Linked DNA regions of Homo sapiens: region 1 is linked to region 2. Evidence: fine-mapped expression QTL. Tissue or cell type: uterus. Region 2 holds a variant in brackets; the other region holds the start of a gene. All regions are shown on one strand. Distances are from middle to middle.

Region 1 (2,607 bases), 110 kb after region 2:
GCAGAGAAAGAGAACCACACCCAAACCAAGCAACTGACATTTTAATCTCCCAGGCAAGTACTAGTTAGACAACTAGTAATGGCATATATGACATAACATATGGCAACATCAGGCAAAACACTTGGCAACTTACTTTTAATGATATATCATTATTTCCTCTTCATTTCAAGGAAAACGAGTTAAGGATGCCTCTCCCTTCTGCATAACACAGCCTGAGAACTCAGATGCGACCGCCTGAAAGCCACGGCCAGATGCAAGCTGTCAGCCCAGTCTCTGCTTACACCTAAAAGAATCGATCTGAACTACTCTTCAAAGCTTATTTGAAGTAATATTTCGATTAATACTGAAAATGAACGTCCAGTCCACTCTTTACCCATACCGTCTCAAACATCTGTCTTAGGTTTAAATTGCATTTAATGAAGAAAAGAACCACCTGATTAGTCCAGGTTTTTTCATCCTCAAAACGAGCTTCCAGGTAGCTTCACCATCCCTACCCCTGGCTCTGAAACCCCAAGCTCTGAAAGCCCTTGGCTCAGATCATTCTCCATTCGCAATGCATTCTCCATTGCGAGGGCTGCGGACAGGCAGGTTGATGGGCAGACTTCAGACACACAAATGGCTCCGCATGCAGACCCAGCAACCCTGAGAGAGCCAGTGTCACCAACGTGCAGTCATTTTGACTATCCCGGGCAGCATACGATCGCCGACAGCCTCTGAAAACACACCAGCTGCCAACCAGTGCCCCCCATGTCACAGCTACCACGGCTAGAAAGGAACACGAGGGCGGCTTACAAAAATCAGACGCATTTCCCCACATTTCAGCCCATGATGTCAAGCTTAAGCACAGATCACTGACGGCCAGCAGCTCCTCCTACCCGTGTGCTTGGAAACCGCATTTAATCTCTGCACCATTTCTTCCAAGGCCATCTCTTCAGTCCTCAGCCAAAACCTCATCCTCCGACACAACAAAAATGATCCTGGCAGATCCGCTTCCTCCGCACGGGGGGCGCCTGCGGGTGGGGCCGTGCGAGTGCGGAGGGGGCGCGGCGGAGGCGGGGAGGGGGCCACGGCAGCGCTTTCAGCCTCCAGCCGCCGCCTCCCTGCCCAGGATTGGTTCCGCGCCACCGGGAGGGGGGCGCGCGCTGCGCCGCGGGGGGCGGGGGGCGGCTCGGCGGAAGCGGAAGCGGCGCGCGCCCGCCCCGGTGTGTCACCACCGCGGGTCACCTGGGAGTCCTGTGAGTGCACCGCCGGGGTCACCTGGGAGCCCCGCGTGTCACCGCCGCGGTCGTCGGGGAGCCCCGGGGCTCACCAACGAGGTCACCTGGGAGCCCCGCGGGTCACCGCCGCGGTCACCTGGAAGTGTCACCTGTGTCACTAGGTCACCTAGTGTATCACACAGGTCACCTAGAAATTCGTGTCACCGCCAAGGTCACCTAGAAATTCGTGTCACCGCCGAGGTCCCCTGGGAGCCCCGCGGGTGCCGCACAAGTGCCCCCGCCCTTCCCCCCGGTTCCGGGTCTCCACGCCCTCCTGGTTTGCGGGCAGCCGCGAAGCCGCGAGTGGACCGAGCGAGTGCAGCTGCCTCCGCGGGGCCGCGCCTGGCCGCCGCCTCCCTTTACCTCCGGCCGCCCCGTGGCAGGTGTAGAAGCTGCAGAGGCCGCAGCAGCCCAGCGCGCCCCTTCCGTGTGGCCGCATGCCACCCGCGCCGCGCCCAGGTAAGCAGGTCCGTGGGTCGCTGGGTCCATGCGTGGGTCCGTGGCTGGCCGGGGATGGACCAGCCCCTCCCCGCAGGGGCATCGCCTGCCCAAGGACGCAGGACCCAGTGAGGGAAGCGCGCGCTGCAGGCACGGGGCTCTCCACCCTCGCCATGGTTGGCACCAAGCCACACTGTGCACTCGACACACGCAGCGTCCTGGCTGCCACCTGCAGATTCCAGCTCGTGTCTATGCAGGGCCATGGCCGCCATCACAGGGCCATATGCAAGAAACTCTCTGAGCTCTCCTCGCCCAAAACCGCAGCTATCCTTTTGTGGTTTGGTATTATAGGTAACATGCCCTTCCTTAAAGAAACAGTATTTCAGGCCTGTAGTCCCAGCTACTCCGGAGGCCGAGGCAGAAGCTGAGGCAGAAGCAGGAGGATCATTTGAGCCCAGAAGTTTGAGCCTGGGCAATGTAGCAAGACCCCCCCCCCCACCTCACTCCCCAATCAGTTAAAAGAGAGAGAGAGAGAGAGAGAATTCCAGCAGGAAGAAGTACACATTTCCACGAATGGTTTGGGAATTCAAGCATCATATGGCTGAGGTTTGAACTACAGCTCATGCCAATAACATGTGCACATGCGCCAGCATTCCAGCGTCCAACAGAGCATGCGTGCACCATTCCAGCATCCGGCAACAATGCACCAGCATTCCAGCGTCCAACAGAGCATCCGTGTACCATTCCGGCATTTGGCAACAATGCACCAGCATTCCAGAGTCCAACAGGGCATGCGTGCACCATTCCAGCATCCGGCAACAATGCACCAGCATTCCAGCGTCCAACAGAGCGTGCGTGCACCATTCCAGCATCCGGCAACAATGCACCAGCATTCCAGCGTCCAAAAGAGCAT
Region 2 (2,755 bases):
GTTTCTAAGGGACAGGAAGTTCTGGGGGCAAAGGAGGTTCTGGGGGTACAGAAGGTTCTGGGGTTCAGGAGGTTCTGGGGTACAGGAGGTCCTGGGGTACAGGAGGTTCTGGGGGTTCAGGACGTTTTCTGGGGTTCAGGAGGTTTTCTGGGGTTCAGGAGGTTCTGGGGGTTCAGGAGGTTCTAGGGGTACAGGAGCATCATGGTATCTCAGCCAAATTGAAAACATCGTATTTTGTGATTTCAGTTGGTTAGAATAGGAACTTGCAGTAGAATCTGAAGTCATTATTCAGTACTTTTAAGAAGTTGTGACAAAATACACGTCAAAACACCACCTACCCTCTCCAGAAAGCATCTTCCAACCAGTTCTGGGCAGTCAGTGTAGTTTTCCAGCTCCCTGAGGAATATCCTAGACAAAGAAGGTTTTTAAGTAGTATGAAAGACAGGCCGAGTCACGTGGACCAGTGACAAGTGGATGGACGTCATTTTTCAGAAGCCTGTTACGCCTTGCTCTGGGCAATCTGCCCCGCATGACTTGGAGACGCCGCAGCCACGCCTGTCCTGAGCACCAAGCTCTCAGGCGCCAGCAGGTGCAGCCCCAGGCTGAGTCTCTTTATATTTCTGGCCTTGGCTGCACACAGAAGTTGGAGGGAGCTGCTTTTCCCTCAGCACACACACGGCTCACAGGGCCGCAGGCAAAGACAGAGATGGGACCTTTCAGGGCCCTGGAGGCGCCACCCCCATAACTGGCCGTGGGTCTGTGGGTTCTCTGCAGACACACCCTGAGCCCTGGCCCTAGGCAGCGCCGCCCCCAGGCTCCTGGGCTGTTTTCTGTTGCATCTGTCCCCTGGAGGAAGTCCGGCTGGAGGGGAAAACCGTCTGGGGGATGGATTTGGGGCATGAGCACAACAGCTGAAAGCTGTGGGGACCCCTGCGTGCAGGACTGGCTGAGACCCTGGGGGCCATGAGGACAGATACTAAGGGACACTAAGGTTCTGCCCAAGCTCCGTGGACGTGGAAGGCTCCTTGGTGGTCAACTGCAGACCTGCTGCCTCCTTGTAAGTGGCAGGTGAGGTGATGAGAGGGCAAGAAACAGGTGTCAGAACAACATCCCAAGCACTGGCGATTCCCATGGCCAGTGGGGCACGCTGGTCCCCAAGCACATGGCCGCATGGGAGCCACTCACATGGGTTCCTTCCAGGACACGCAGCGGGGGCTGTCCACTGCAGCCTCCCTGGCATTCTGCACTGCGTGTGCACCCTACACCTTCCCATGAGCTCCCCAAAACTGTGTTAAAGCAGCCAAACAGCTCAGAGGAGTGGAGGACAAGAGGCC[G/A]GACAGGCCACCTGCACTGGAGAGGCCACGGGTCGCTCGGGGGACAAGCAGCCCCCATGATGGGTAAGGAACGCCTAGTTTGCCGTCCTTTTCAAGAGCTTGGGAACAAAACAGGCCTTGCTATGTGGTATGGCCTTCGGTGACCCCCTAAAGGGCCGAATACACACCTGGGAGGGGGTTCCGGCTTCCACCTGCCCAGCAGGATGAGGAGGGGATGAGGGGCAGGCGGGTCCCATTTCCTGCACCACAAAACAGGGCGCACTCGGGCTCAGAGCCCTCTCCTCACGGCTGGCGGCTCACTTACAACTTGGCTGCCTAGACACAGGCCACCAGGTACGGTGCCACGTGGGCGCTCAGAGATGGCCCCATGTACCCACACTCAAGCCTGTGCCTCTGTGAGTCCACCCCTTGGGCGCCCCTCCCTAGCCAGGCATGGCCTGGCCTCCACCCCCATTCCAGCCCCCTGAAGCCAGCACCATTAGCTGCAAGAGATCACGGGTGCGTGCCTGTGTCGGGGGGAAGGGCCCACCTGTTGTGGAAGTGATAGATTTCCTCCATGTTTCCAAACAAAACATCCTTCTTGTTGTGAAGGCCTGTTGACAGGAGGTGAGCCATCAGTGGGTTATCCATCTCCGCGGCGTAGCCCTGCAGGGAGAGCGCAGAGGTCGGCGGGGGTCCTGGGCCTGATGCTGTGGGGGGGCAGGTGGGCCAGGGATGCCGGCTCATCTGTGGGCCAGGCCAGCCCTTCATCTTTATTCTCGGGTGATTTCTAAGTTACCGGGACAGGCATCCATCAAAGCAAAAGCATTATGAACAGCACCAATTTGGGGGAATGGGGTGGAGGTTCTACCCTTCTCCCTTTTAACCTTTTATGATTCAGGTGTAACTGAAACAGAGGGCACAAATCTTATGTCTACACTCGGGTGACCTGCTCACACTCAGTAAATCAGACACTCGACTACACTCAGGTGACCACCACCTGTGCACACTCGGTGACTCAGACACCCGTCTACATTTGGGTGACCACCACCTGTGCACACTCGCTGTCTACACTCAGGTGGTCACCACCTGTGCACACTCGCTGTCTACACTCAGGTGATCACATGTGCACACTCGCTGTCTACACTCAGGTGACCACATGTGCACACTCAGTGAATCAGACACCTGTCAACACTCAGTTGACCACCACCTGTGCACACTCGGTGAATCAGACACCCGTCTACACTTGGGTGACCACCACCTCTGAACACTCGGTGATTCGGACACCCGTCTACACTCAAGTGACCACCACCTGTGCACACTCGCTGTCTACACTCAGGTGATCACTACCTGTGCACACTGGGTGAATGAGATGCCTGTCTATACTCAGGTGACCACCACTCACATCAAGCTCACCCAGGCAACAGCCCACTGCCAAGGTC

Which allele goes with the higher level. Alleles are on the strand shown, and positions count from the first base shown. SD is a standard deviation of normalised expression in the study named.
For the expression in uterus of the gene that starts at base 1,120 in region 1, allele A in region 2 goes with a higher level than allele G (moderate effect, 0.49 SD a copy in GTEx).

Evidence for each region. PIP is the estimated chance that this variant, and not a neighbour inherited with it, causes the effect.
Region 1: MCF2L starts here. The variant in region 2 is fine-mapped to the expression of MCF2L in uterus (GTEx, PIP 0.94).

What each region holds. Positions count from the first base shown.
Region 1 is chr13:112,967,727-112,970,333 of GRCh38, reverse strand. It overlaps MCF2L (MCF.2 cell line derived transforming sequence like), which reads right to left and starts at 1,120. Exons shown (of 30, transcript NM_001112732.3): 1 at 876-1,120. The coding sequence starts at 954. MCF2L-AS1 (MCF2L antisense RNA 1) reads left to right here and starts at 1,696. Exons shown (of 1, transcript NR_034002.1): 1 at 1,696-2,607. RefSeq lists a silencer at 1,185-1,244 and an enhancer at 1,446-1,965.
Region 2 is chr13:113,081,651-113,084,405 of GRCh38, reverse strand. It overlaps MCF2L (MCF.2 cell line derived transforming sequence like), which reads right to left. Exons shown (of 30, transcript NM_001112732.3): 17 at 1,864-1,979; 18 at 339-408. Among named protein-coding and RNA genes, the nearest start is that of F7, 23 kb to the left of the region's middle. The variant G/A (reference allele first, on the strand shown) is at 1,335.